2 separate regions of the Homo sapiens genome follow, and region 1 is linked to region 2. A link means that fine-mapping ties the variant in region 2 to the expression of a gene that starts in the linked region. Tissue or cell type: whole blood. Region 2 holds a variant in brackets; the other region holds the start of a gene. All regions are shown on one strand. Distances are between the middles of the regions. Region 1 holds the start of ADPGK (ADP dependent glucokinase). Region 2 overlaps ADPGK (ADP dependent glucokinase).

What was found.
Region 1: it holds the start of ADPGK, and the variant in region 2 is fine-mapped to the expression of ADPGK in whole blood (TOPMed, PIP above 0.99).

Annotation. Positions count from the first base shown.
Region 1 is chr15:72,774,363-72,790,643 of GRCh38, forward strand. It overlaps ADPGK (ADP dependent glucokinase), which reads right to left and starts at 9,396. Exons shown (of 7, transcript NM_001365225.1): 1 at 9,097-9,396; 2 at 510-735. The coding sequence starts at 9,329. It overlaps ADPGK-AS1 (ADPGK antisense RNA 1), which reads left to right and starts at 8,473. Exons shown (of 3, transcript NR_040107.1): 1 at 8,473-10,834; 2 at 13,060-13,231. RefSeq lists enhancers at 8,772-8,841, 9,602-9,661, 9,712-9,921 and a silencer at 9,092-9,551.
Region 2 is chr15:72,745,045-72,761,325 of GRCh38, forward strand. ADPGK (ADP dependent glucokinase) reads right to left here. Exons shown (of 7, transcript NM_001365225.1): 4 at 15,363-15,483; 5 at 11,207-11,403; 6 at 10,512-10,610; 7 at 6,250-7,851. The coding sequence ends at 7,297. Among named protein-coding and RNA genes, the nearest start is that of ADPGK-AS1, 30 kb to the right of the region's middle. The variant C/T (reference allele first, on the strand shown) is at 11,402.

The DNA of each region.
Region 1 (16,281 bases), 29 kb after region 2:
TAGGAGCAGGCATACTGGGGTGAGGTAGGAAGAGCCATGGTTGGGTCTCCAGCCCCAGCACTGCCTCTTATTCCACGTGAACCTCCAGGAAGTGCCTGGACCATGCAGGGCTTTGTATATAATCACCAGGTGAACTTGGAAACCACTAAGGTTCTAACTTCGACAGGTTCTACCTTGCAGACCAGTGGTTCTCAAAAGGAGGTTCTCAGACCTACAGGATCAACCAGGAAACTTGCTGGAAAGGTAAATTCTTGGGTCCCATCCCACATCTACTGAATCTGAACTCTGGTAGTAGGCCCAGAAATCTGTGTTTCAACAGCCTCTCCAAATGATTCTGACACATGCTCAAGTCTGAGAACCATCAACCTAGACCCACAGTTTTCAACCAGGGGTGATTTTGCTCCCCTCCTCTTCAAACTGGAATGAAAAGTTGCTTGCTTGCTTCTAGGAACCATATTAAAAAGGCATCTTTTTCCACCCTTAATTTACTATTGCTGAACCAAACAGACCTGGGCTCCTGGGAACTCTGATGCAACCTGGGCAATGTCGTGAAAAGTTTCCTTATCACTGAAGAAGCGCTCAGCAGCTGCTCCCTTCCCCATGAAGTGAATGAAGGCTTCTTCCAGATCATTCCTTGAATGCAGAATGCTGTGATCTTTCCCATTCCCAGGACTAAGGCCAAGTGCCTGCAAGAGCTTCACCCCTGAGAGCACCACATCAACACATGCATTGACTCTAGAAGGAGGAAAAAAACTGTGTGAAAGCAGCAGAAGCACCAAGTAGCCATTTTGCATTTAACAAAAGGAAAATGTTTCTCAGAACCTTATTCAACAGAAAAAACAGGAAGTAGGTCTGAAACCTGAATTGGGAAGTAAACAGCACATGGCAGGAGAAAAATTACTTTAACTGGATTTATGTATTAGCATCAGAACACAGGACTCTTCAATAATTTGGCAAACTTTTACACTAGTTACAAAGTGAGAAGATAGGTGCTTAGCATTTCAGAACAAAGCTACTGTAACAAAAATGTAACATTTCTGAGAAAAACGCTGGCAGAGCCAAACAGGATTCATGCTGGCCGTGTGACTTGGGCAAGTCACTAATTTCTCTGTGCCTCGGTTTCCTCATCCACAAAATGGCAATAATATGAGCATTTAACTCATAGAGCTATGGTTAAGATTAAATAAGTGAATGTATACTTAGGAACAGCAATTGGCGCAGAGTAAGCAAAATATGTGTTTCAGTCAAAGGCTAGGTATCAGGCATCTTCCCTCTAAAAACAAATGAGGATGGTAAGATACAATAAATTCCTAAATGCCTGAGTACTCCCAGCTGAAACCCTGCCTCTTAGAATTTAGTGGTGTTTTACAGACTTAGGCACACCTGCAGCATTTTAAGAACTCACCCTTTGGCCAGTGTTCACAGGACTGACCCATGAACGTTAAAGACCTGCCACTCCTGGTTGTCTCGATGGAAATTATAAAGTACAGGTTGAATCCCTTATCTGAAGTGCTTGAGATCAGAGTGTTTCCGATTTTGGAATATTTACATATACATGAGATATCTTGGGAATGCAACCCAAGTCCAAACACATTTCATATATACTTTATACATACAGCCTGAAGGTAACTTTATACAATGTTTTAAATACTTTTGTGCATGAAATAAAGTTTCTATTCCTTACGTGTGGGTGGAATTTTCACATATAAGTACTTAATATACATCAGTGGCATCATGTCAGTGCCCCAGAGTTTTGGATTTCAGAGCATTCTGGATGCTCAACTTGTACTAAGGTTGTCTGGCATGACCTCTCCTATGTGTGTATGGAGAAAGTCTGTCTTACATTTTCAGGGTTTCTTTGCTAAGTCATCCCTCTTTTAAAGAGAACGTTCAAATAATTAAGGTAGCTAGATGAGGTCTTCCCGCCCCTACCCCTATCATGGTCATCTTTATTCCTGCCTCTGCCTATTGGGATGTCATTCTGGCCAGTGAGGTTGGATTACCACACAGGCAGCTCCCAGCCGGCAAACTGAGACCACCCCTAGTGATACGGGTGACTGGGCTTCAGAGTTAATTCTGAGCAGCTCTGAAACCACAAGGTAAACTCATTAATAAAAATGTCCCAATGGATGAGATTTTGGTGTAAAATACATAGTTGTATTTCCCTTTTAGTCTCTTTCAAAAATGAAGAGGAATGAGACTGGGATGAAGAGGAATTTTACCAGGTATATTTCTACTTTTAACATGCTTGTATTCCTTTTAGAATTTTTAAAATGACATAACTTTAAAAAGGTTTGTATGCAGACTAGATATTATTTACATCACTTAAGGAAGATTTACAAGGGCAAGGAAGAGACATCCTCCCTCAAGACACAAAGAGACTGCATCCTCATTATAAGGGTCCTTTTTATTAATTCTTCCCCTAGGGATTCATGTTTTGAAAGGAGTTTTGCCTATCAAATAGCATTTAAATACTCAGTTTCTTGTTCAAGACACACATAATGACTCTGGTCAACTGGAGAAGCATAACCTAAGATTTACTATGCCTTTCAGTGCATAAAACATCTAGCTACTGTATTTGGCCCTTCTCTTTAAAAGAGGGATGATTTCTAGTAAAGAAACACTGAAAATATAAGCCAGAACTTCTCCATGACACACACAGAAGGGGCCATTCTGGACATGCACGTGGCAGTTGCTTAAAGATATGTTTAAAATCTTTCCTTTCACAACCTTCAATGTTAAGAAACCAAACACACCTTGCAAACTGGTCTCAATTTTACCTCAGACATGGTGCCCTTTATTTCTAATGAATGCAACATTAGATTGGTAGAATCAACAGGAATACAAGTATCTGTAGCTCTCAGACGCCAGTAGGTTCCTAAGTTTCAGACAGTGAGGGCTTGAGTAAGGAGGGATACCATTTCCTCCAGACAGCCCAGTCTAAAAAAATTGTATCCAAATGGATTTGGGTCCCGAGTCTGAAGAGTAAAGGTTCAGAAATGGAGGGAAACCTGTCTTTGAAAATAACTACTTCAAAAACTATAAACACCCTCAAGCCTGTAATCCCAGCACTTTGGGAGACCGAGGCAGGTGGATCATGAGGTCAGGAGTTTGAGACCAGCCTGGCCAAGATGGTGAAACTCCATCTCTAATGAAAACACAAAAATTAGCTGGGTGTGGTGGTGGACACCTGTAATCCCAGCTACTTGGGAGGCTGAGGCAGGAGAATCGCTTGAACCCGGGAGGTGGAGGTTGCAGTGAGCTGAGATCGTGCCATGGTACTCCAGCCTGGGCAACAGAGCAAGACTCCATCTCAAAAACAAAACAAAACAAAACAAAACTATAAACACCCCACTCTCCATATCTAGTACTGCTGAGATTTTAAACAGTCTGACTCCTTAAAATGAGAATGGGGAAAGCTGTTCAGTATATTTTGTAACACAAGGCAAAACCCAACAGAACTAATTTTGAGTTACAAAATATCACTATCATGGAACATTTTCCATCCCTCACCTAATCATACCAGGAATACCGGGGGAAAATAACCAGTTTTTCAGACTGGTTCACAGTTTACTTGATAACTTTTTATAATTAAAAAAAACCAGGCTGAGCACGGTGGCTCACACTTGTAACCCCAGCACTTTGGGAGGCCAAGGCGGGTGGATCACTTGAGCCTAGGAGTTCCAGACCAGCCTGAGCAATATAGCAAGACCCCGTCTCTACAAAAAATACAAAAATTACCTGGGTGTGGTGGTGCACACCTGTAGCCCCAGCTACTCAGGAAGCTGAGGCAGGAGGATCACTTGAGCCTGGGAGGCAGAGGTTGCAGTGAACCAAGATGGCACCACTGCTCTTCAGCCTGGGTGAGAGAGCAAGACCCTGTCTCAAAAAAACACTGAACATCTACTACATGCCGGATGCCAAACAAGTACTTTACATGTACTTTCTTGTTCTGTTTTATAATACTTTAACCAGAATAAGAATCTTTCTCTGCACTTTCTCAACTCAATAGCATCCCAAAATGTAAAAAGCATATTACCTAAGGGGCTGTATTGTCAAGGGGAAATAAAGGGAGACACAGTTAAAGAATCAGAAGACAAAATTATGCTCATCTGACATGCAAGCAGAAGCTCACACTTCAGTAAAAAATGTATATTAGATGACTGTGATTTTGGAGAAAACACAGATGAAACAACTAGAAAATAGGTCAAGACAACAGATGCTGAATGTCAAAATGGGTTGGGGGGCTGGCAAAGAGGGCACAGTTCTCCCTTCTAGACCATAAGTGCCTCTAAGGCAAAGACGATGTTTCCTATCTCCTCCCTTCTGTTTCATCACCTGTAAAATGTTTTCTAAGGTTTTCTCTAGCTTTACATTATGTGCATCAGCTGTTATAAGAGCTAATCGTAATTGTTAAGACATAGAACTGTAAAGAGGCGGGGGAAAAATGGCTAGGGCAGTGGTCCCTGTGCTGAACCCTAGCTCCTGCATCTAGATAGAAGAAAGGCGGCTGATCTTTAAGAAGCACCCCACGCTAGGCAGGCATTTTCAGATAGATTAAACCTATTTGCAAAATGCGGTAAGATCGCTAATTAGTCATCACTGCTTTCAGCTGAGAAGAGTGAGGCCATGGATTAACTAACATTCCAAAGCCCACAGACAGGCAGAGCTGAAATTCAAACCCAGATTTATCTGATGATACTGAAACCCACGTAGGAAGTATACACAAGCAAAGTTGTACATGAAGGGATTAACCTTGTGTTTGGATACAATAAAGAATTATCTAGCTAGAATGGAGAATTCATACAGGGGAGAAGACCAAGATATGTTTCAAGGTTCAGGGTGAAGCCAGTTCCAGGGGCAATAAATATTAGCATGAGGGTTTTTTTTTTTTTTTTTTTTTGAGATAGAGTCTCACTCTTGTTGCCCAGGCTGGAATGCAACGGCGCGATCTCGGCTCACCGCAACCTCTGCCTCCTGGGTTGAAGCGATTCTCCTGCCTCAGCCTCCTGAGAAGCTGGGATTACAGAAATGCATCACCACGCCTAATTTTTTTATTTTTAGTAGAGATGGGGTTTCTCCATGTTGGTCAAGCTGGTCTCGAACTCCTGACCTCAGGTGATCCACCCACCTCAGCCTCCCAAAGTGCTGGGATTACAGGCGTGAGCCACCATGCCTGCCGGGTTTCATCATTTTTAAACCAATGAATAGGTACCAGAGTCTGATTTAGAAGCAGGGGAAGTTTCCTAGAAACGCCTTAAAACTCCTCCTATCCTTTACTTCTTTGACCCCTTTTCACCAGCCCCTTAATGCACTAGCATTTAAGGGCTAGTGCCTCCCAGAATTCCACCTTTACCATTTTTACCTTCTCCTCTTCTCTTCCTGGGTGATCCTATCCAGTCTCTGGCTTCAACCTAAGTGCCAGTGTCTCCAAAATTTGCAATCCTGTTTCTCAATATATTCCTAAAAACCAGCTTCTCATTTTCAGTAGCTGACAGAGAAGCTTCATCTGAAATCCCATAACAATGTATGTACATTTCTCCTCCTCTGAAATCCAATTTATCTTCTGAAACTTGTTTTTCTTAAATCTCTCTTAATGGCAACAACATGGCATCAACAAGGAACCAGAAATGGGAAAGACCAGGCTTCAATTGCTCCTCTGGCACTTGATAGCTACAAGATCTTGGGCAAATAAATCAATGTGAGAAGACTCGGTGACAATATCTGTTATCTGCCTCCCTCATAAAGTTGTTGCATTAGTCAATTTTCATAATGCTATAATGAATTGCCCGGGACTGGGTAATTTATAAAGGAAAGAGGTTTAATTGACTTACAGTTCAGCATGGCTGGGAAGGCCTCAGGAAACTTACATTCATGGTGGAAGGTGAAGGGGAAGCAAGGCACCTTCTTCTTAAGGTGTCAGGAAGGAGCCGTGCCGAGTGAATAGCAGGGAAGAGCCCCTTATAAAACCAAAGGATCTCATGAGAACGAACTCACTATCAGGAGAACAGAATGGGGGAACCGCCCCCATGATTCAATTACCTCCACCTGGTCTCTCCCTTGATTAGCTTATGGGGATTACAATTCAAGATGAGATTTGAGTGGGGACACAAAGCCTAACCATATTAGTTGTTATAAGATATTTAATACTGGGCTGGGTGTGGAATCACAGCTGTAATTCCAGCACTTTCAGAGGCCAAGATGGGAGGCCAAGGCCTGATCCCAGTAGTTGAAGACCAGCCTGAGCAACTTGGCAAATCCTGTCCCTACCAAGAATATAAAAATTAGCCGGGTGTGGTGGTACATGCCTGTAGTTCCAGCTACTCGGGACACTGAGCATGACAGGTCAAGGCCACAGTGAGCTTGAACATGCCACTGCACACGCCAGCCTGGGTGACAGAGTGAGATGCTGTCTCAAACAGAAAACAAAAACTAAACAAGATATCCAATATTAAAAACCTGTCGTTTTTGACTGCCTTTCTTTACTCCACCACATCCAAACTATTATTCAGGTTATCTCTCAAATCTCACCTCTTCTACATCATTGCCGAGTTTGGTTCGGGCTCCTTTCTCCCTTTACACAAACCCTACAATGGCCTCTTAAACCAGTGTCAGGATGTCAAGATATTCCTCCTTATGAATCACATTAAATGGCATTTTGAGTGTGTCTGTGTGACAGAGAGTGTGAATACGAGTGTGTCTCTAGAGAAGTCAAACTACAACCTCAAAATGAGATTCTGATACAAGTACTACACCTGCTCCCCCTCATCCCTCCTATATCCCCCTATCTTTGGGCTAAAAATCCTCTTTGGGTAATAAATGATGAGAAGCAGTGAAACAGTTTAGAACCACTGCTCAAAATCCACCCTTCACATTCCCACCAATTCTCAACAAAGAACTTGTCATCAGTTAACTACTTACAAACCTTTATGGCTTCCCCATAAAAGGCCCTTCACAATCTGGTCCAACCCTTCGTTCTCAGCATCATCTCTTTACAACCCTCTACCATAGGATTCTCGCTCCAAAACAAGGCCGACCTGTTCCCAAACAAACCATGTACTTTTTCACATTTGGTTCTCTTGCCTAGGTGGACCTGTTCCCACTTTGGCTTGAAGAAATCTCATTTATTTAGTGTCTGTCCTATGAAAGTCACTGTAGTAAAATATATTTTCCAAGATGGTGGCAATAAGATGCCCCATTCCAAATGTTCTTTTCACAATGTGACACTGATGCTCCTCCCATCAAGGTTTGTTCTATGTCCCCTCCCTTAAAACCAGGTGGACCTGTGACTCTGGTAGAAGAGTTCCTATGTGCTTCTAAGGTAAGGTCGTAAAAGGCATTAAGGCTTCTGCCTGGTCCTCGTGGGTTGTTCCTCTTCTAACCATAATTGTTATGGATTGAATTGTCCACCCCCCACCAATTCATATGCTGAAACCCTAATTCCCAATGTGACTATATTTGGACGTAGGGCCTTTAAGGAAGTAGTTAAGGTTAAATAAGGTCATACGGGTGAGCCCTATTCCAAAAGGACCTAGTGTCCACATAAGAAGAATAAGAGGCACCAGGAGTGTACATGCGCAGACTAACTGAAAAGCCAGCTGGCTGCAAGCTAGGAAGAGAGGCCACATCGGAAGCCAATCCTGCCAACACCTTGATCTTGGACTATCAGCCTCCAGATCCACGAGAAAACAGATTTGTTGTTTAATCCACCTAATTTGTGGTATTCTGTTCTAGCAGCCCAAATGACTGATACAATAATATGTTTCCAACAAGTGAGACAGGGGCCTTGCTTCACCCATCTCTGTATCTTAAGAACCTAGCACAGACCTGACACTAACCATGTAGTTGGTGAATATCTGCTGAATGAACGCGCATAAAGCAAGGAAGGACAATTTAATCCCAGCACTTTGGGAGGCCAAGATGGGAGGCTGGCTTGAGCTCAGGAGTTCGAGACCAGCCTGGGCAATATAGCAAGACCTCGACTCTACTAAAAAAAATAAAATAAATAAAAAATTGGCTGGGCGTGGTGGTGCTTGCCTGTCGTCCCAGCTACTCCAGAGGCTGAGGCAGAAGGATCTCTTGAGCTCGGGAGTTCGAGGCTGCAGTGAGCAGTGATTGCACCACTGCACTCCAGCCTAGGCGACAGAGAGAGAGACCCTGTGTCCAAAAAAAAAAAAAAAAAAAAACCCCAAAATTATAGCTAATATCGAATGCTTTTTAAAGCAGGCACTATGCTAGAGAGATTACATGAATGATGTCATTTAATCTTCAGGCCAAGTTTGCTCTACTTTACCCCTCCCGGCCCCAACACTCCACAGAAAGTAGTGAGCTACATGGTAGAGGGCCTGCTTTTATGTGGTGGTTATACATAACTCTGAGATTACGGCAAGAAAGTCAAATCGAACTGAGACAGGGACTAAAGTTAGTGTTTACAGTATCAATACTATAAAGAAAATAATTACATTCCCAAGGAAAAGTACAAAGAAAGGAGGTAGTGTCATTTGGAAGAACCTTAAATATGCAGTGTCACTGAAGTCAGGGGAAGAAAAGAATTTCACGGAGAAGGGCGTGTTCAATGCGTGGAAGGCTGCAGAGTAGATAATGAAGATTCAAAAAGGCAAATCTGAGAGGAGTTGCAGTACAGTCGTGTGGTTTCTAGACTACACGGCGTTTCGAAAGTGGGTAAAGGCAGACATCACGCGTCTTCAAGAAGTTCAGAAGAAAGAGGAAGAGTGTTGTCATAGTGGGTAAGGTCAAGTATCTTTGATTGCAAAACAACAGTCGCCAGAAGAGAAGGGGCTAAAAGTTGGAACGAGGAAGAAGGCTCGGAGAAAGGTGTCAGACAAAGCGGGATTAGCAAGAAGCTGTTAGGGCTGGTCCTACCGGGATGAGAGAAAGGCGCAGAGGCCAGCCGAGTGGAAAGAGCAGCGGTGACGAACCGGGTTCCACTCAGACGTCCGACACTTCTCGCCAAGGGGCCAGCGCGGACAGCAGCGCCTCCCGGGGACCTCTGAGAAGCCCTGTTTCTGCGCGGCTCCGCCCGACCTCCAAGGCCGACCTCGGAGGCTCAGAGACCCAGGCCCCGTTGGCACTCACCCCACTGCCACGCGGCGCCAGCGCCGGACTGGCCGCACGATAAGCGCGTCCCAGGCTGCCGCCAACCGGCCCTCGGGGGAGACGGGTCCCGGGGGCGCAGGCGCGGGCCCCAGACACAGCGAGCTCCAGAGAGAGCGCAGCGCCGAGCCTGGCAGCTCTGGCTCCAGCAGGAAGACGCAGCCCACGGCCAGCGCCAGGAAGCCCGCGTACGCGGAGCCGCGCCACAGCGCCATGGGGACCCAGGCGCCGCACCTGCGCGAACCAACTCCTTTCCTAGCCCGCGCCTCTTCCGGGCTCGGCGCGCGCCGATGTCGACACAAGCGCTACGTCACAAGGGTGCGCCACGGGGCCCCCCAAGGGGCGGGGCGACGGGCGGCGCCAGGACGGAGCGAGGGGGGACCCCACGCCTCAGTCCCAGGCCTGGCACTGCGGTGTTGCCGCCCCGGAGGAGGTGGGACAACGGCGGTTGTGCCAGTCCGGGCGCTGCACCCCCTTCCCGGAACTCTAATCGTATCCCCAAATAGAGGGATGGGAACACATTTGCTTTCGCAGTAAAACGAAACGGACAGATTGTGAAGAAGCGGACAAACCTCGCGTTAATATTCGAACCAGTGGGTGTCCCCATTGGCACGGATCACACCCCCATCTTTTAATCCCTCCCTCCGCCCGTGTCCCCTCATTTGCTAGACTTGTCCTCTTCCAGGCCTAGTGCTCGGCGCTTCTGAGAGGAATAGGCTCACAGAATAGCGGCGCTGCCGAGACCCCTGGGGTACGCGAGGCAGGGGGATTCCGCCCCTTTGGAAGGTGGCCGAGACCCTCAGCCACTAAAGGACTTCGTCGAGACAGGAGAGCCCGCAGAGATCGTTCTCTTCTGGATAACCAGATTATTCCACAATCAAACTTTAACCCTTTTGGGGGCGCTGTTCCCTTTAACAAACTCTGGAAAATGTACACAATCTTGTGCACAACACGAGAGTTATGGACCTGGGTTGAGAAACGCTGCTTTCTTTTGTTCCCCCTTGGTGACATCACTTAAACCCAGCCCTCTCTTCGCTGATACTTTTCTGTGCATGAGGCTAGGTTGAGAGACAGTGAAGCTAGGCTGGGTACCAGCTCATTCTCATCAGCCACAATGCCCGGCCTAGTCTTGTTCCCTGGTTTGTTTCCACTTTTCCAATTCTCTCGGCTCCTGACCTTGGCTTTGTGTCCAGTTTTCCACTGTGACCCTGACCTTTGGACTTGGCAGCGAAACTTTATTTCCCTAACTTTGATCTTGGGCATTAGTCTTCATTCTCCTCAGCCCCACCTCATCAGAACTTCCCCATCCTGGTCATCTACCTTCCCGCAGTTCATCCTACCCAGCCTACCTGACCATGCCATCCCTTTCGACAAAGATATTCACACAGGAACAGATTTGGGCTACCTTGGAAAAGAAGCCAAAGAGCCAGTCAGATCTTTATGAAGCCATGAAAGCCATCTTCCCTAGAGTTGCCTGTCACTTCTCTCTCCTTAGGGAGACATGTCAGTCAGTTCCTAGAGAAACTGCTTCTTCTCACAACCCTCAGCTGTCAGGTTTCCCTGGCACCCAGAGGGGACTGAGCCAGCAGCTGACCTGAAAACAGCGAGTCTGCTGACTGTCCAGCGATCATTTCCCTCTATTGAGAATTTTAACCAAGTTTCTGTTGTCTGTAGTTATTTGATATTGGCTGTGGACCCACAAAGTCACACAAGGCTAAAGGTCAGAACCAGTTAAATATGTTTCCAAGGTGAAGTTTTGGGGAGCACAGGAAGCTGAACTGTGGGAAGGTGATAGAACAGACAGATCTAGAGGACTAGGAGAGTGCTCCACATTAAAGTGATGTGGACAGAAACCTGCCTGGGGCTTTCTTGCTCCCACGAGAGGCTGCTAAACTTCCAGCACTTTGCACCTAATTCTTCTGCTTCTTTCTAGATTTGCCAGAATTGTTGATTTAGTCACAGAGACAAAACAACAGCAGTTGAACAAAGTGGATGTTTATTTCTCATGTAAAAGTCTAAATGGGGTGTTGGCATGTTGTGGGCTGTGGTAGCAAGCTTGGCCCCCTCTGGTTGCTATGGGACCTGCTGTGGGCCTCTTGCTGGTTAGTCACTCAGTGTGGGTTTGCATTGTGGGTGGTGAAGGGGGCCAGACAAGGAAACGAGAGAGCTGACCTCAATTCCAACTGAGAACTGAAGAGTCAGGAGCCGCAGGAGGTGAAGAACAGAACACCAGGGACAGTTGCCAGGCCTGGCGGAGCCTGATGTGGCTTCTGGTCACATACAGAGTCACAGGGCCCTTAATTCCTTCTCATCGGGGCTCAGGGGCAGGCATTCACTGTCTTGGTGCCACAGTCCCTCTTGAAATATTTCCTTAACGAAAATCAGAAAAGATTCTGATCATCTATCTGTTCAGAGAGTCTGGAATCCTTTGCAAGCCAATTGTTTTTCTAGAAGTTAGGTTTCTGGGGACAATTAAAACAGCTCTGAGTGGGCAGCTGTGGCTCCTTTGCCTAGGCTGAACAAAGAGGAAAGGGCTGGGCTGGGCAGGCCTCAAGACACCCCCCGCCCCCACCCAAATTGCTTCCAGACATGGCCTTTCCTATTGGTTCTCTCTCCTAGGACCTTGAAATGAGAGAAGAAAAGCAATTTGGTTCTAGAAAATTCAGAGGCAAATGGAGGCTCCAGGTGCCCCACCCAAGATCCTGACCTGGAAGGCCAGGGAGCAGATCCTGTATGAACACAAAGAATTAGCAGAATCCTGTCAGCTTCCAAATTAGCTGAAGGTTTTGGCTTTAACATAAATACCCATCAGCGTCACCCCCGCAATCTGAAAGGCCTTAAGGGGCACATTTGTTCCCACGTGGAGCAGAAACTAAAGTGGGACCAAATGGTCCCTGTGAAAGCTGGGCTAACCCACTTTCCTTGCAGCTCCAGGCCTCTGGGGTTTCATCCAAGCTGCTCTTTGAAGGCCACACTGTGTCAAAGCCTTTGTTGATGCCAGGGACACAGCCCACCACAGGCCATGCCCAAAGGCCAGAGTCAGAGCACAATTTTGAAGATTACAGAAAACTCCAAAGAGATTGAAGAGATGGAATAAAGGATCCCAGCCCCCGAAAAGAGAAAGCTTTGTGTCTGTAGCCATAGCCCTTGGCAATCAGACATCCTCCTCACTAATGTGAGGTCAGGAGGGGACTAGAAGTGCTCAGAGGATGGACTGCCTCTGGCCAGTGCAGGGGAGAGGCAGGGGTGTTGAGGCACAGGAGCCAGATGAGAGGAACGTCAGCAGCAAAGCAGTAAGAAGAACATGAGAGTTTCTTGATAGTAATAGAACTTCCTACACAGACTGGGAACCGGGTTGTAGCTTGAGGGGATGTGACAACATAGTGGCCCGGAATTTTCACTTTGGAAATTAACTGCTTTGGACCAGGAAGAAGCGCTGAGCCTAGAAAGGCAGGAGGCACAGGACTGTGTGGGCTTCTGTCTGGCAGGGACCTATGAGCTTCATAGGGCGAATGAATCGGGGCAGGATAAAGCAGAGGCCTCCACCCTCACAGTGCTCTTAGCCATCTCAGGCTTCCCGGAACACTGCTACCAGGCTGCCTGCTGGAGCCCTTTACACTCACAGGCCTTCCTGCTTGGGTTCTCTTCTGCAGGCTGCGTAAACCAGTCCTGTTGTAGCCCTTGTAGCATCTGCTGTAGTGATCTGGTTTGGGTTTCAGTATTACTTGCAATGGTTTGGAAGGAAATGGGAAGTTTGCCTTCTAACTACATTTTCTTTTTGATTCAAGAACCCTAGCAGTTCTACAACCACTGGGCCTAAAACTAAAATAAAGGAAAAATAAATAAAAGGAAGCAAAAACATCTAACTGGGATGGCCTGGCAGCATTGCCAGAGAGAGTCCTCAGGGGCCCATGCTTGTTCTGTCTTTTGCTCTGCCATCCCTAGGGTGGACAGCACGGAAGAGGCAGTACATCTTAACAAAATCAGGGTTCTGGATGAAGGGAGGGGTGGTGAATGGTTGCTGCAATCAACAGTTCATACTTCAATGGAAAGAAGGTGGGATTTGATTCCTGGCTGCAAATCTTCACTCTGTCACCTGCTATCTGTGTGCCCTCAGGTAAGTCATTTAACTTTTCTGTTCTTCAGTTTCCTTATATGCAAAATAATTCCTACTTTGCAGAATGGTTGTGGGAGGTAGAGTTATCTTAAGACAGTCTAGCACAGTGTCTGCTACATGCTGGAATTCAAAACATTCCCTGCTGTTGCTATGGTTGGTTCTGAGAGCTATATTTAATTTTCTTTTTAGTCTTTCTTGCTGGTCTGTCACTCTCTTACTATAAGGAAGACAGCCATTTCTGCATAGGTCACTATGCAGTAGCCTTTTCTATTTTTTGACGGCTTAGCATCTATGTAATATCCCACTGAATGAAAATACTAAAATTTATCTATTGTACTATGAATAGACGATTTGGAGTTTTCCCAGTTTTTTTACTATTACATACAGTGTTGCTATGTATATGCTGTGGTACACGTGTATAGCCATTTCTTCAGGGTAGAAACAAAGTAACATTTCTGGGTCATATGATATGCCTGTCTTCAACTTTACTATATAATATCTGACATCTTTCCAAAGTGGTATGCCAGTTTATCTTCCCACTGGCAGCATATGAGAATTTCTGTTGCTCCAGCTACACTCCAACAGATTCTTAAAGCTTTGTCATTTTGTAGGGTGTGTAGTGGTATCTTACTGTGGTTTTGACAAGTTTCCATTTGTTGGTTATTTGCAAGTATCTTGCCTCCCTCCCAGTCACTTGTCTATTCATTCTTTTTATAATATCTTTAGTGAGTAGAGTTCTATGAAAAATTATTCTTATTTATGTATTTTTGTAGAGATAGGGTCTCTCTGTGTTGCCCAGGATGGTTTTGAATTCCTGACCTCGAGAGATCCTCCTGCCTTGGCCTCCCAAGGTGCTAGGAATACAGTTGTGAGCTACCATGCGCAGGCTTAAAGTTCTTCGTTTTTAGTGTAGTTACCGTTTTGTTCTTTTTTTATTACTACTTTCCCCTTATCATTGGTGCTTTTTGTTACTTATTTAAAAAATCTTCCCATACTCAGGATCGTGATGGTATTTTCCTGTACAACCTTCTAAGAGCTGTAGGCTTTCACATTTCATGTTTAGGTATTTAATCTACCTTGGAATTGATTTTTGTGTGTTGTGAGAAGAATGCTTATAGATACCCAATTGACCCAGTGCCTTTTACTGGTCATTTCTCAATGACTCTGCATTCCCACCTCTGTCCAATACCACGTGTCTATGTATGTGTGGATCTGTTTTGGGGCTCTTCAATCTGTTCCATTGGTCTATTTGTTTATCAGCGTCTCACTGTCTTGATATCTGTTAATATAAATTCTTTCTCCTTACTCTTCAAGAGTGTCTTGGCTATCTTTGGCCTTTTAAAATTCCCATATACATTTTTGAATCAACTTGTCGCCCTCCCTCCCAAAAAAACCCAATTAGGATTTTTATCATTCTAGGACTATGGTAGATCCCTTCATTTATTTAGATCTACCTAAATGTCTCCCAATATCATATTAGACTTTTTGTGGAGGATTTGTATGTCTTTAGTAAGTTTTATTACTAGGCACTTAATATTTTTAGTATGCTTATTGAAGTAAAATTGATATGCATTAAGTGCATAATATTTAAAGTATACAAATTAATAAGTTTAATATATGTATACACCCTGAAACTGTTACAGGAAAGGGGTCCAGATCCAGACGCCAAGAGAGGGTTCTTGGATCTCATGCAAGAAAGGATTCAGGGCTAGTCTGTAGTGCAAAGCGAAAGCAAGTTTATTAAGAAAGCAAAGTGGTGAAAGGACTGCTACTCCATAGACAGAGCGGGACGTTCCCGAAACTAAGAGGAGGAACGCATCCACCCTAGGTACAATGCTTGTATATATGGAGAGATGTGCTCTGCTACAAGGGTTTGTGATAAACTATTAATTTTCTTAATTATCGTATTTGGCAAGAATCAATATTATTATCTTTCAAGCAAAATTAGGAATGCCTTTGTTCCCCAGATATTGGGATATCTGGACACTCCCGAGTCTGGGTCTGTTTTAGTAAACATTATTAATTTGTTCCCTTAACCGTAAACATCTAGAGGCTAAGAATGCCTAACTTTCTGGGAATTCAGTCCAGCAAGTCTCAGCCTCATTCTCCTAGCCCTCACTCAAAGTGGAGTCGCTCTGGTTCGAATGCCTCTGACAAAACCATCACCACAATCAAGGTAATATAGTAAACATATCCATCACCCCCAAATACTTCCTCATGGCCCTTTGTAACCCTTCCCTCTTACTCCTTCCTGCCTGTACATCCTCCCACTCCCTGTACCTAGGCAATCTGCTTTCTGTCCCTACAGTTCAGTTTACACTTTGCAGAATTTTATATAAATGGGATCATACAGTACATACTCTTTTTGATGTGGCTTTTTTCATACAGCATAATTATTTTTGAGATTTATCTAGGTTATAGTGAATATCAACTGTTAATTGCTCTTTAAAAAACTTTTAACTTCAAAACAGTTATATATTCACAGGAAGTTGCCAAAATGGTAGGGTCTGTGTACCCTTCACCCAGTTTCTTTCAATGGATATATCTTACATAATCATAGTGCAGCATCAAAACCAGTAAACGGACATTGGTGCAAGGTGTATGTATAGTTTTGTGCCGTCTTATTATATATGGAGATTCGGGTAATCACCACTCAATCAAGTTGCAAGAACTGTCCCATCACCACGAAGATCTCCCTCATGCTATCCCTTTAGTCACACCCAACCCCCATCCTCTACCATTCCTAGACCCTGGCAGCCACTAATCTGCTTTGCATCACTGTAATTTTGTCATTCTGAGAAATGTTATAAATGGAATCATACAGTATGTGATCTTTTGAGAGCATAATACCCTTGAGATGCATCCAACACTGTTGCATGTGTCAATAGTTCATTTTTGTTATTTATTTTTATTTTTTGACTGAGTAATGTTCTGTGGTATGGAAAGATCACAGTTAGCTTAGTCATTCACTCATTGAAGGAGAACTCCCCAACAATTGCTCTGGACATGCTGGAATTTTTTTTTTCTGTTCTTTGTTCATTCTTGCTCAT
Region 2 (16,281 bases):
TGGATGATGGAGTGAGAGCCTGTCTTAAAACACACAAACACAAAAAACCCATCATGTTTCTTAAATGATAAAGGACTGTTACATAAAATATACAAATAACTTCAAAAACTCTACATTAAGAATACAACCTGAGGCCGGGCGCGATGGCTCACGCCTGCAATCCCAGCACTTTGGGAGGCTAAGGCGGGCGGATCTCTTGAGGTCAGGAGTTGGAGACCAGCCTGGCCAACGTGGTGAAACCACGTCTCTACTAAAAACACAAAAATTAGCCAGGCATGATGCCTGTAATCTCAGCTACTTGGGAGGCTGAGGCAGAAGAATTGCTGGAACCCGGGAGGCAGAGGTTGCAGTGAGTGGAGATTGCACCATTGCACATCAGTCTGGGCAACAGCGAAACTGACTTAAAAGCAAAAAAACCAACCTGACTAGAAAATGGACCAAAACCCCTCACCTCACCAAAGATACACAGATGGCAAATAAACATATTTAAAAATGTTCCACATCATATATCATCAGAGAAATGCAAATTAAAATGAGATACCACTACATACCTATTAGAATGCCCAAATCCAGAACACTGACACCACCAGATGCTGGTGAGGATATTGAGCAATGGACTGTTCATTTATCGATGTTGGGAATGCAAAATAGTATAACCACTTTGGAAGACAGTTTGGCAGCTTCTTACAAAACTAAACATACTTTTAATGTTAGAACTCAGCAATCACACTCCTATTTACCCAAAGGAGTTAGAAATATATGTCCACACAAAAACCTGCACATGGATGTTTACAGCAGCTTTATTCACAGTTGCCAAAACCTGGAGGCAACCAAAATGTCCTTCAATAGGTGAATAAATGAATAAACTGTGGTACATCCAGATAAAAGACTACTACTCAATTCTAAAAAGAAATGAGCTATGAAAAGACATGTAGGAAACTGAAGTGCGTATTACTATAGAAAGGAACCAATTTGAAATGGCTGCATCCCACATGATTCCAACAATATGGCCTTCTGGAAAAGGCAAAACTATAAGACAGCAAACGGATCAGTGGTTGCCAGGCATTAGTGGGGAGGGAAGGATGAACAGAGCACAGAGGGTTGTTAGGGCAGTGAAATTACCCTGTGTGATACCATAGTGGTGGATGCATGTTGTTATATTAATATATTTGTCCAGGCCAGGTGTGGTGGCTCATGCCTGTAATCCCAGCACTTTGGGAGGCTGAGGTGGGCAGATCACCTGAGGTCAGGAGTTTCAGACCAGCCGGGCCAACCTGGCAAAACCCCGTCTCTACTAAAAATACAAAAATTAGCCGGGCATGGTGGCGCACACCTGTAATTCCAGTTACTCAGGAGGCTGAGGCAGGAGAATGGCTTGAACCCAGGAGGTGGAAGTTGCAGTGAGTCAAGATTGTGCCACTGTGCTCCAGCCTGGGTGACAGAGTGAGACTCTGTCCAAAGCCACAGAATGTACAAGACTGAAGCCAAAAGTAAATTATGGACTTTGGGTGATAAAGATGTGTCCGTATATATACATCAGTTGTAACAAATGTGGGAGATGTTTGCTTTACATGTTCTTGTGGGAGATGTTGATAGGGAGGGAAGAGGCTATGCATGTGTTGGGGCAGCTGGTATATGGCAAGTGTCTGTATTTCCTCAATTTCCTATGAACCTAAAACTTCAATACCCTTCTCAGCCCCTGAGAAAGTAAAAACAAAACAAAATCATAAAAATTCTCAGCAAATAAAGAATAGATGGGAACATCTTCAACCTGATGAAGGGCATCCATGAGAAAAAAAATGCAATGGATATCATATTTAGTGAAATATTGACTACTTTGCCCCTAAGATCAGGACCAAGGCAAAGATGTTTGCTCTTACCACTTCTATTCAGCCTTATACTGGACTAGAGTTCTGGCCAGTGCAATAAGGCAAGAAATAAAAAGGCATAAAGACTAGAAAGGAAGAAATAAAACTCTTTACAGATGACATGATTATGTGGAAGATCCTAAGGAATCCTAAAAATAAATTATTAAAATAAAAGTGACTACACCCAAGTGGATTTGGCAGGGTCACAAGATACAGTCAATGTACAAAAATCAATTGTATTTTTATATACAAGGAACAATTTTGAAAATAAAAAAAATCACAAAAGTGTCAAATACTATTGATACGAAATACTTAGGAATTTAACAGACTACACGTTAAGACCTCTACTCTGAAAACGGCAAAAGCACTGGTGTGAAACAGAAGGCCATTATAGAAATATATATCATGTTCATGCATTGTACGACTAAATACTGTTAAGATAAAAATTCTTCCGAAATTCATCTATAGATCCTATCATAATCCCAGCAGGTTTTGGGGTAGAAATTGACTTGACAAGCTGGCTCTAAAATGTTATGGAAACACAAAGGACCAAGAACATGTAAAGCAATCATGGAAAAAAACCAAAATTGGAAGACTTACACTGCCTTACTTCAAGACTTACTATAATAGTGCTCATGTAGCACTGGCATAAAGATAGACAAATAGAGCAATAAAACAGAAGTGAGTGCATACATAGACCTTACAGTTATACAGTCATTTGATTTTTGATAAAGGTACCAAAGCAATGCAATGGGAAAAGTCTTTTCAACCAATGTTACTGGAACGACTGGATAGCTGTATGGAAAAGCAATCTAGGGGCAGGGGTTGGGGAGATGTACAACACGGTGACTCTACTTAATGTATTATTGAAAATTTCCTAGTATATAAAAATACAATACAAAAGAATTTAAAGAAGAAAAAGTTATTGAAAATTGCCAACAGAAGATTTCAAGTGTTCTCACCACAAAAAACTGAGACAATGCATAATTAGCTCAATATAGCTATATACCTACAGCTAATGTAAAGGTAATATATACATATTTCAAAACATGCTGTACATGATAAAAACTTACACATTTTATATACAAAGTGAGACTATATTTGTGACATGGGCATGGTCCAATATTTCTTTGGGCATAGAGAACATTAAGACATTAAGAAAAAGGATATCAAACCACAGACTTGGAGAAAGTACAAAACATATCTGACAAAGGACTTGTATCCAAACATTTTGGATGCAACTCTTATTACTCAAAAAAACCTAACAACCCAAACAACATACACAAAGCAAACAACTCAACTGGGGGAGAAAAAGGCAAAAGATTTGGACACTTCACAAAGAAAGATATATGAATAGTCAATAAAGCACATGAAAAAGTGCTCATATGTCATTAGGGAAATACAAATTGAATCCATGCTGAAATACCACTGTATACCTGTCAAAATGGGTAAAATTAAACATTGACAACTCCAGATGGTTGTGGGGAAGAAAAGCAACCACAACTGTCATATGCTGTTTTAGGGAGTGTAAATGGTCCAACCATTTTAGAAAAAAGGCCTTTCACCCAGCAATTTCCCTCCTATAGGCCTTTACCCAAGAGAAATGACAGTACGTCTACACAAACACTTGTTGACAGCAGCTTTATTCATAATAATTCCAAAGTGGAATGCTCTGTACTCACAGTGGAGTACTATCTAGCTATAAAAAGCAACCAACTACATGCAACATGGATTACTCTAAAAAATACTATGCTAAATGGAAGAAGCTCTATACAAAGGACTAAATACTGAATGGCTCCATTTTTAAGTTGCATTCTGAAAACAGGCAAAACTGATTTCTGGTGGAAAATAACTGGTTGTTCTGGGGCTTGAGGTATGCGGTGGGGATGACTTGGAAGTGGCATGAAGGAACTATCTAGGGTGATGGAGACTTTTCATTTTTGCTGCTCCTTGCAGATCAAGACTAACTCAGACAATGTGCTTGGGGCTGTCCATTCTGAATCTTTTTTTTTTTTTTTTTTTTTTGAGACAGAGTTGGCTGTGCTGCCCAGGCAGAAGTGCATGATCTTGGCTCACTCCAACCTCTGCCCCATGGGCTCAAGCAGTTCTCTTGTCTCAGCCTCCCCAGTAGCTGGGATTACAGGCACCCACCACCACACCCAGCTAATTTTTGTATTTTTAGTAGAGACCGCGCCTGACCGTTACCTGGCCAACATGGTAAAACCCCATCTCTACAAAAAATACAAAAATTAGCCAGGTCTAGTGGCAGGCACCTGTAATCCCAGCTACTAGGGCGGCTGAGGCAGGAGAATCGCTTGAACCTGGGAGGTGGAATTTACAGTGAGCCGAGACTGAGCCACTGCACTCCAGCCTGGGTGACAGAGCGAAACTCTGTCTCAAAAACAAAAAGGCCAGGTGTGGTGGCTCATGCCTGTAATCCCAGCACTTTGGGAGGCCGAGGCGGCTGGATCACCTGAGGTCAGGAGTTCAAGACCAGTCTGGGTAACCTGGTGAAACCCCATCTCTATTAATAATACAAAAAACTTAGCTGGGCGTGGTGGCAGGTGCCTGTAATCCCAGCTACTCCGGAGGCTGAGGCAGTTGAATCACTTGAACCCAGGAGGTGGAGGTTGCAATGAGCTGGGATTACACCATTGTACTCCAGCCTGGGCGACAGAGCGAGACTCTGTCTCAAAAACAAAAACACAAAAACAAATTTACCAAATGGCACACTTAAAATTTGTGCAGTTTCACTATATAAACATTTTCACCTTTAAAAAAAAAAAGACCAGAAAACAAAATGTTAAATTATTACAAGTAGCTTTTCAGTGATTTAAAATAGTTCTAAAGAGACCCAAGAAATTGTCTGTTCAGCTTGGTTATAACTGACAATTATTTAGCTCTTAAGTATGTGCCCCATACTGTGCTAAATATTCCACATGGCAGTCTCCTGTAATCAACAGCCCTATGAAGGTAGGTACCGCCATTAACCCCATTTTACAGATAAGCAAAGTAAGGCTCAGTAAGGGTAACTTGTCCAACATCATTCAATACTCACCACCTCAAAACCTTTTGTACAATTTGGATTTCTTCTCAAACTTGCCAGGAGAGAATACAATGCAAACTGTACCTGCATAAGATGACGGATTTTTGGCTGTACTCTTACTTCTTGGTAGTGCTTTGTATGCTGCAGCTTTTCTTTTCCCTGAAACTAAAATCAGTTTCAAATGAAAGCCAGAGGGAGTGTACCAACACTTTTCAGGAAGACTCACCCTTCACCAGGCATCCTTTTTAGGCCAATGGATTTTCAAAGATTTCTTCATATAAAATCATATGTAAAATACCTTTGTAAAACACCAAAGGGTTGAGAAACCTGAAGCCCCCACCTGTTCAGCTTATCCTACCCTTCCAACTCACCTCTGCATAATCTGTCTTGTGTGATAAATACCCATCACTTCTATTGCTTAGCTGCTTCACAAAAAAGATGGACATTCTGCAGGGCGATGTATGTATGTTTAAATCTATATACACTTAGACAGTCAATGACATTTTATAAAACAATGCTTACTTATACTTACCCTTATAATGTATGATGTTTTTATACTTTTTGTGATAACCACCAAATGGATTTAGTAGCTATTAGTTCAAGATCCATTATTTGAAAAACACTGCTCTAGGGTATGTGTAGTCTATACTCCCTGAACTAGTCTTTACTGGCATCACCAATCAAAAAATGGAGAACGAGTTAAGAATACACACTCAGGACCAGGGGCTTAGTCAACTTAGACATTAGAAAAGATCATGTGAACACTTCAGGACTCCTAATAAAGTCTTCTTAGGTTTAGAATATAAATATTTCAATTCTTGAGAAAACAAAAATTTCATGTGAGCCTTTCTAATAAAAATAGGCTAGAAGGTTGGTGGTTATTTTTAACTTATCTGGGAAACAGAAGGAAGAGGTAGCAGCCAGAGATTTCCTTAATTTAAGCCTAGAATGCAGCTTTGAGTTACAAGCTGCATTCTAGGCTTAAATTTACTTTGAAGGAGTAATCAAGCTTTCTTATCCAAAGCAGGGAAAGGGAGGTCATAAATGAAGAGCTTGAGGTAGCTTTGAGATTCCAGAAGCTGCTGTGGGCCCAGGGGAAATGAAGACCCCTGAACTAGGCAGGCCCACCACCAGCTGCCATGTTCATACTGCCCTCCCAACAAGCTGAAAAGGCTCACCATGCTCTCAAACTGCTATGCTCCAATTCAGCTTTAACTGGGCTACTTCATACTAGTACTTTGTGTCACTTTCAACCCCACAGGACAAGCCTATAGCTCAGGCTCAGCATGAGGGACTGCAAGCACCTCAAGAGCAAAGTAACATGCACATCACAAATGAAGATCAGAATGATTTTTATCTTATCTGGTTCCAGAGTGGTGATGGAGACAAAAATCAATTACAGACAGAATTCCTGAAATGTAAATTGTTTTTAATATATTTAAGAGCACACAGAAGTCTTGATTTATAAAAAAATAAATATATAACATGACAAATTTACTGATGATCCTGGAGCTCTGAGGTCAAACTCTTTAAATGATCAGTGAAAACATAAAACATCCATGATCTGTTAACACACACAGGAGCATATTCCAGTTGTAAAAAACAAATTCCTTGAAGGCTCAGAACGAACAAAAATCAGTCTTTATGGCAGAAAGCACATCCAAAGCTAGGCAATGAAGTTCAGCCTGGGCCACGTGAACCTTTCACCAGCCAGCCTATAACCTATGGAGCCAGGACAGGAAAGCATGATCCTTCAGCTCATGACGCCACCCAGGCTTCCAGACAACTGCAGAATGAAAGAGTCCCTCAGAGGCTCCCCAGCCCCTGCTGCCATCATAAAGCACGGGAGGGATTGTTTTGTCCTTAGCGGCTCTGTCCTAAATTTGAGAGCAGGAGACTGAGAAGGTTATGCTCATTAAATATTGTCATTGTAACACGGAATGGAAATCATGATCCTTGCCCATGGGCACTGAGCTGAAAGAAAGAGGAACCTCACATGAGGCTTTCCTAGAGACCAGGATGTTGGGTGAGTGGGCGTGCACTTCTCAAGTGGGCAAGGAAGAACTGCTTTTCTCCAGCTGACATGCTCTCAGGGGTGAAGAAGTTTAGCTTAAAATACCTGATGGCGCTGCATAAACTGGGGATTTGGGAACTGAGTTTTTAGCTCTGTGACACACAACATAAAAAACAAAAATCCAGTCTCATTAGCTAAATTCGGATTAAAATCTGAAATGTTTTTATGGAGTTGCCAACAGGCTGGAATGTACCTGATACAGTTTAATCTGCTTTTATTTCTTTGGCTGTCTTCCAAACCACTTTCTTCCTGTAATTCTTAAGTTGGCTAGTTCTCCTTCCTCAGAAAAATTACCCCTAAGAATCTTCCTAATAGTGAGGGTGTACTTCCGAATAGAAGAGTCCTTCGGCTGAAATGGCATCTCCAAGGCCTACAGTTCGAATGGGGTCTTTACACACCAATACTGGTGTGAAGTGGAAGGATATTCCCTCTCTGTGCCATTCTACTACTGGCTTGTTTGGGTTTAATACAATCCTGGAGCCTGCCTCCGAATGGGAAGTCATGAACTCTTGGGGTGCCCTCAGAGACACTCGGCTGGTGTCTATGGTTTCTGTGGCGCAGGCCTGTGTCCCAGCCACACGAGCTCCTGCAGCCACGGCTGCCAGCTGGTTGGCCCAGTGTCCATCCACAGTTGCCAGGATGTGGTAGACCAGCGTGTGGAAATGGATCCTGGTGAGATCCGAGGCTCTGCTTTTACTCCTCCCATGTTCTTTCAAGATCCAGAAGAGGATGTCACTGACCATGCCCACATCAGGAACACCGTTCCAGGAAGAGAGAGAAGAGTGAGGTCCAGAGGCTGACTGGGTGAGAAATAACAGCTCCTGTTCATTCAGCCCAAGGGAAGTCACCGCGGGAAAGACCTGCTAACAAAAACAACAACAGGTATCTTTCTGATGGAGATAACCTGGCTCCTAAGATGTCTTATGACACAGCCAGTGACTAAATGACAGGGAACACAGGCAGGCAGCTTTCTTCCTTGATACAGGACTCCCTGGCCCTGAAGTCACTGTTTTAGCTATCACACCCCTATCTTCACCTTCATCATCATTTGGGAGAAACTGGAAAGCTGCAGTAACATTGTTTCAGATGCAGTCTTTTGTGATATGCCACTGTAAGACAAAAGGCAGAGGTGTCTATATTTTGTGTTTCTTTCCATGGTCCCTAGCTTTTGCCACTGCACACATAGGAGATACTCTTACCACTGATGGGGCATGGCTCTCAGTTCCTGAATGTCAGCAGTATTAGACCAGTAAAATGGAGACCTCAAGCAACATACTGTCAGGGTTATAATGATTTTTTTTATACAAAACACCAAGAAGCAAAAAGCATACAGTTTCATGTTAGAGCTAAGCTTTTTAAAAGCAGGTGTGGGTTAGGAAGACTGTCTGAATTTAGCAATAACACTGTAAGAAAAAGATTACCAAACAGGTGCCCGTGTTTTCTGTCTGATGGGGAACCACAATATCCACCTCCCTGTCTTTCTTACTTAGCACTTCCCTCCTTAGAACCAGAGAACCACACTTAAGGTAACAATTTTTGCAGGAGAGAGGAGTCCTTGTATGTATGTGTGCATGTATAAAATGGTTTTAAAAATTTAATGGCCTACATCTTTGTTGGAGCAATAGCAGCTTTCCTTCACTGCATGTTCTTCTGTGTCAGGCACTGAGCTAAAGGCTTTATTTCATCCAATTCTTACTGTAATCTTCTGAGGGAAGGAGGGACTGCCTCCATTGTACAGACTAAGCCTCAGAAGGGTTAAGTAGACAGTTACAGAGAAAATGAAATAGAAATGGCTCATTTTTTTAAAGGTGAGAAGAAAAACCCAAACAAAAGCTATACTGAAAAACACCAAGAGTGAACCCAAGTGTAAACTATGGACTTTGGGTGCTGATGACGTGCCTGTGTAGGCTCACTAGCTTAACAAATGTACCACTCTGGTGCAGGCTGCTGGTAGTTGGGGAGGCTTGTGTGTGAGGGGACTGGAAGTATATGGGAACTCTCTTGGATTCTGCTCTATTTTGCTATGCACCTAATATTACCATAAAAAAAAAATGAAGTCTATCAAAAAAAAAAAAAACAAAACCAACGACAGTCAGCCCTCCATATCCATGGCTTCAACCAACTTCAGATGGAAAACAGAGTATTCAAGGATGTGGAACCTGCAGATAGGGAGGGCCAACTTGTCTAATCCACAGATTCCACAGGGCCAACTGCAGGACTTAACCATCTGCAGATTCTAGTATCTGGGAAGGGTTCTGGAACCGCCCCCGCCGCCCCACACACCGCTGATGACGAGGGATGACTGTATACTGAAATACCATTTTTTCATCTGTCAGACTGATATAAATGCAAATTTTAACATTCTGGTAGCAAGGATATGAGGGAACAAGTATTTGTAATTATTGCCAGTGGGAAGTAAACTGGTATAATTCTTATGGAGGGCAATCTGGCAATCTCAAAATTACAAGTGCTTTTTTATGCTCCAGTCCAGCTGTTCTACTTCTGAGACTTTCTCCTAAATATGGACTTGTTCACAGGCAAAACAAAATCATGTATCAAGTTGTTCACTGCAGCACTGTGTGTAACAGCAAAGGGCAGTAAATAACCAATATGTCCATCCAGAAGGTTCAGGTTAAGTAAACGGAGGTACATCTACACATTCATTTTAACCATATGGCTATGAAAAGACAGAGGATACTCTCCATGTTAGTGATGCAGGAAGATCTCCAAGATATATTTAGTGAAAAAAAGAGCAAAGTGAAGAACAGAGTATTCAGTAGGCTATGCTATCTTTTTGGGTAAAAAGGGATGGAAAACAAAATCAGGATATATTTCTGTATTTTCTTATACTTGTACAAAAGAACTCTGGAAATAAACTGATGAAGGGTGCAAGTAGGGAAGGGGAGGAAGTAGAAGGGAGACTTCATTGTATATCTTTTCATAGTTTTTGGGTATTTTTTAACCAAATGAATATATTACCAATTAAAATTAGGTAACACTAGATTGCCAGGTGAGGTAACTTGCCTGAGTTCATGAAGCCCGTGAGTGCAAGGCTGGCATGCGAACCCAGGTCTCCAGAGCTTGTGTTCTGAAGCTTCACCTGCTCAGATTTATACTAGTCAATGCTGCTGCCCAGAGGCAGGCACTGAACACCCAGATGCCTGAGGAAGGAGGGAGGTTCCCTCAAAGTTTCTTTGCTTTGAGCTTCTTGAAGTTCAACTGAAAGCAGCTGAGCTGGGCTTTCAGTTTTTTCCATTCACTTTCAACTTTTCCATTCCAGAGGAGAAATATGATCAACAATCTGTCAGTTACACTGCCATAACTTTAACCTAGTAGGAGATACTGCTGTTTCAGAACAGTCCTGGATCCTTATTTGGATCTCCATGGACTTGGGTCTGAGTGACACAAACCTACATGTCAGTGAGCCAGTCCCTGAGCCCAAACAGATGGTCCCACTGCACAAAAAAGCTTCTCTGCAAGGCTCTATGAGGATCAGGGCCAAACGATGGTCCCATGAGGTTACCTGATGGACAATGCTGCTCATGAGCTCCCTGTTAGTCATACTGGCCAGCTCTAGGTGAACTGGAATACCAGTGGGGATGTCAGAAATGGAGGTTACAACCTGCAAAGAGAAGAAGATAAGCACTGCCATTAGAAATAGAAGGAAGTCAAGAAAGAGGGAAGAAAAGATCAGATCCTGAGAGGCGGTTCCTCCTGGTAATGGCCTTCTTTGCATGCTCACGGGAGCTACAAGCAATGTGGGTCCCCACCACCTCTGTGGACAAGGGACACTCTTCCCACCAGGGAAGACTAGGCTGTGCAGAGCCATCAGGGATACAGAATCAGAGATGGCAGTTCACTTCGACTGCTGTACGAATCTGTAGGAGTTGCAGCATAGCTGATGTGAAGTGAGATGATACAAATAACACAAAGGACACAAACTACAAACCCTGCAGCTTGCAGCCATGGTCGGTTTAGCACAGGATGCAGAGGCTCAGGCAAGAAGATGTTCTGCCCTGTCCTACTCAAGCTGCTGCCCACATCTGAAGGGATACAGTGAGGTGCCTCACTGCAGCAGGAGGCAAGCTCCACAGCCAGCTGCCAAGATATGTCCCTGGGAGGCCAGGACCTAAGACAAGGCAGCAGATGCCAAGAGAGGCTGGAACCTGAAGAAAACCACCAGCTGAGATCTGTGAAATTCTGTAACAGTGCCATTACCTCCAAGAGTCTCTTCCTCTGGAGCTCCTTGCTTTGTCCCTCCATCATGTGCAATCCAGAGAGGACCACCAGGTCTGGCTGAAACTCCTCCAGGCTAGACACAAACACCTCCAGCATATTCATGGCCCCGTTGGAGAGGTCGTGAGAGAAGATGAATCGGTTGGCATGGGGAGCTTTTAACTGGCCCCACTCCTC[C/T]CCTGGAAAAACCCAGTCAACACAATGGGAAGAAAAGGAAGAGGCTTTAGGTCTCCTAGCTGTGGGGGCACTTTCAGGCACCTCACAGGAGCCTTGGCTCCAAGCAGGCTGGTTTCTGGCTGAGGAGACCCCAGCAACAATGGCCTAAGGTCAGCATGGCACTGCAAGAAACAAACCAAAAACCTAAACCCAAACCCAGCCAAGAAACAGAAACATAGTATGGGTGCTATATGCCTTTTTCAAGGTAATTAGCTCCCCCTGAGTCCCAGGAGAGCCCTACTTGAGCTCTCAAACACAGGAGAGACAGTACAGAATGGCAGCATGACTTCCAAATACCAGCATACAGTGTGCAGCACGCACGCCCTGCAGACAGTATAGGCTGTCATTGTTTAAAGCACATTCTTCCTCACAGCATTGCCCTGAGCATCTTTCATTCAGTTGGAACTTAAGCAGGCTGAATTTCTTCCCAACAGCCAAGCTCACTGCATCTCCTCTTCCCTGCTGCCCATCAGTGGTTTCTGGGCACCTGATCCAAAGGATCAGACTATCTAGCTGCTCCAGTTGCTTCTATGTGAGTTGCTTTAGAGGAATGACTGTTTAAAGACCCAAGTTCAAGTGCTAGTTCCTCCCTAAACATGAAGCCTTTCCTAATCCTACCACCCCTAAGCAGACTTGATTACCTCCTTTCTGGGGCCACCACTGTACCCTAATACAGGACTGAGGCACATGATTTTGCAATTCCTTTTTCTTTTTTCCTTTTTTTTTTTTTTTTTTCTTCTGAGATGGAGTTTCACTCTGTTGCCCAGGTTGGAGCGCAATGGCGCGACCTCAGCTCACTGCAACCTCTGCCTCCCAGGTTCAAGCGATTCTCCTGCCTCAGCCTCCCGAGTAGCTGGGATTACAGGTACCCGCCACCACGCCTGGCTAATTTTTGTATTTTCAGTAGAGACGGAGTTTCACCATGTTGGCCAGGCTGGTCTTAAACTCCTGACCTCAGGTGATCTGCCTGCCTTAGCCTCCCAAAGTGCTGGGATTACAGGCGTGAGCCACCATGCCCGGCCTGCAATTACTTTTTCCAAGTGTCTATCTCTGGCAGTAAACTGTGAGCTGAGGGCAGGGCCTGTGTCATCCTCTGTCGTATTCCTTCTGCATCATGCTGTGTCTGGCATATAGCCATGGGAATGAATTAACAAAAGAACAAGCAAATAAGAGAACAGACTGATGACCTAAATGCCCATGACAACAAAAAATATGGGTATGAACCCCAAATCCAACATTTTGCAAATCAACAAAGACTCTGTACGATGGGAAAAATACATTACATTGACATTCTCCAGAGAGCAAGACGTGGACTCAACCCTTGAATAGTGACACTGCTAGGAAACACGACCTAACTGAACCTAGGAGAAAGGAGCCACACTGTATTGAAAATACACTGATTTCTTCAGGAAGTGACAGAGGCAAAAATAAACAGGCTCTTCTGCAAGGCAAGGATGAGAAGAACCGTGCAGAGCTGCTTGCTGTTTCCACAGGAAACAAGGCAGCAGATGCCAAGAGAGGCTGGAACCTGAAGAAAACCACCAGCTGAGATCTGTGAAATTCTGTAACAGTGCCATTACCTCCAAGAGTCTCTTCCTCTGGAGCTCCTTGCTTTGTCCCTCCATCATGTGCAATCCAGAAAGGACCACCAGGTCTGGCTGAAACTCCTCCAGGCTAGACACAAACACCTCCAGCATATTCATGGCCCCGTTGGAGAGGCCATGCAGGGGGCAGATGCAAATGGATCTAATTCTGCCTGTAATGGTAGTTAGCGCCCCTCTTTCCTCACAAAGTGTTGTATTCATTCCTGTAAGCAATCTCTTCTCAATGTATCATCCTGCCCTCAGCCAGTAAGTCAGCAAAACCTCTGCGTAGTGACTCACTGGATTCCCAGCCCAAGCCTGACAATGGGCTTCTCTGGGGAGATCTGGTAAGAGAGAATGTGGAAAAAAAAATGGACAAATCCCTTGGAATTTCCCTATTGAGGTCAGAGACAAGCTGGGAATGGATTTCTGTTGAGAGAGCTGAGCCCAGGGCTACTGCCACTAGACTAGGCTCCCTCCTTGGACCTAGGAAAATGTCACCTCACAAAGTTTAATGGAAGTCCACTGCTTTGTATGCAGAAGAGGCATAGGAAAGAAAAACTGAAGTGTGAAGCTTATAAACCCAAGGATGGAGACACTCTCTTTGTGCGGTGAACTGTGCTGTCTCCTTAACTACATACGAGGCACAGCTGTCCAATACAACATCAAAGTCTTGCTGAAGACGTAAGACTCTCCACTCTGTAGTCACCAGGAAAAATGACAAACCAGGAATCACAAAGGTCCCCAGTTCCTGCTGTGGGTGCCAAAAAAACTGACACGAATCTGGAACTCATGGCAGCAATACCTCAGGGGCTCATCTTTAGCAATTCCAGACCCTTCCAGTCCACAGTCAGGTCATTCTTTTATTTATTTATTATTATTATTTTTTGAGACGGAGTCTCGCTCTGTTGCCCAGACTGGAGTGCAGTGGTGCAATCTCAGTTCACTGCAACCTCCGCCTCCCAGGCTCAAGCAATTCTCTGCCTCAGCCTACTGAGTAGCTGGGATTATAGGCGCCCGCCTCCACACCTGGCTAATTTTTGTATTTTTAGTAGAGACGGGGTTTCACCATCTTGGCCAGGCTGGTCTTGAACTCCTGACCTTGTGATCCACCCGCTTCAGCCTCACAAAGTTCTGGGATTACAGGCATGAGCCACCACGTGCGGCCAGGTCATCTTTTCATCCAAGCTGCTCACAATGTTTCCGCACACCAACCAATCTCTTAATCCTTACCACAATGATCAGGCAGTAAAAACTATTACTCTTACTTCCCATTTGGGAAAACTAAAGCTGAGAAACTCAAAAACTTGTGTAGCATTAAGTATGAATTGCCTACGTCAACGCTGTGTCCCTAATTTTCAGACCCTATCCTTCTTTAATTCCCAACTGATTCTAGTAAGCACCCGAAAGAGAACCAGAACATGTTACAACTCTTTTTTCTACCTGGAGAAAGGCATAATTCTCAAGAAATAACATAGTTCATATCTTATGTTAAAGTTAATTACTCTAGTAGAGAAGATTCTCTTAATTGACTTGGAAGTAGTTCACTGAAGAGTATTAAGTGCTGCTTTAAGGTACCAATTAGTCTGTTTAGATGCTTGAGTCTTTAATGTGTATTAACAATGTGTTGAATCAGAAACTCAAGAGTCTGAGTTCTGAGCAGAGGGAAAATTACAGCAGGAAATACACAGGATCAAAGTATGTCCAAGTATTTAATATTCTCTCAGAAACCAGATGCCTAATCTACGTAACATATAAAATCTGCTGGGAAGAGGGGATGGGATGCAGTGGATGTGGATTTATTAACATTAGAACATCTGATGGGAAACAATATAGTGATGTTAAATACAAAACACTTCCATTCACACACCCAAGGAAAAATAAAATGCTCCAGAGAAACTTGCCAGAAGCTTGGAATCAACCCCAAGCAGCTTGGAAGAGTCAGTCAGAAAGGCCTAGGGCAGAATCCAGCACAGAGTTGAATGGATGCTACCTGCCTTTCTCTTGTCTTAGTCATAAAGGAAAACTTTATATATGTGTGTTTAACACGTTTTCACTTTTATTTGAGATGCTTGCTTTCCTATGACCTGATTTATCTTGGGTTCGGAGCAATTCTGCTTGTAGACCTGGGAATTTTCTTCCATGTTATAATACTCAGTCTCCCTTGAGACAACGGCCAGTATCAGCTCAGTAGAACCAATAGGTCAGGAAACTTTCAGTATGGCAAAAACAGGATCCTGCTAATTTACAAAGATAAATTTCCGGCACAGTCACACCCCAATCTGACAATACACAGCCCCTTGACTGGTCTTGCCACCATTACTTACTCATTTCCTTACCTGCTTGATACTCTAAAATGAGGTGGAACTCATCCACTTCCTGCAATGACTCTGGTGGAACAAAGACATTGTCATCAAGAAGCTCATGTAGCTTTGGACCAACTGGACCGCAAAGAAGAACCTGGAGGCAAGCAACACGAAGTCCATCAGGAGCCCCGTTCCTTTCCCCACAGAACCTCAACAGCACCCCAGGACAGTACATTCAGGCTGATTCTAATCATTTCAACAAAATATTGGAATCCAAATCTAATTTTGAAAGCTGTTGGTCTGGAGGTGTGCGGCAGAAGGCATGTCACCAGGGCTAAGGCCTCTGGAGGGTATGGCCATAATGTACCCAGAACTGAGAGGCTGACAAAAGAACTGTGTCACAGCCGTCAGGCACCTATGCAGCTGCTACATCTCATTCCCTCTGCTGCGGACTGCACGTTTGTGTCACCTCCCCAAATTTAGATGGTGAAGCCCAAACCCCCATGTGGCTTATTTGGAGATAGGGCTTTTGGAAGGTAATTAATATGAAATGAGGTCATAAGGGTGAGGTGAGGTCCTAATCAGATAGAACTGGTGGCCTTATAAGAAAAGAGAGAGAGATCAATCTCTCTCCCCCCACCGCATGCACCAAGGACAGGACATGTGGGAACACATTGAGAAGGTGGCCACCTGCAAGCCAGGAAGAGACTTCTCACCAGAAGCCACACCTTGCTGGAACCTTGTTCTGGGGCTTTCCAGTCTCCACTGTGAGAAAATAAACTTCTGTTGCTTGAGCCCCCAAGTCTATGGTATTGTGCTACTATGGCAGCCAAAGCAGACCCTACCCCCACTTTCTTTACTCACTCACACCTTGTGCAGGCAAACAGACATGGGATGTTGTCTGCAACAAAGCTGCCAGATGAAAACTGTTTGAGTTTTTATACAGTATAAA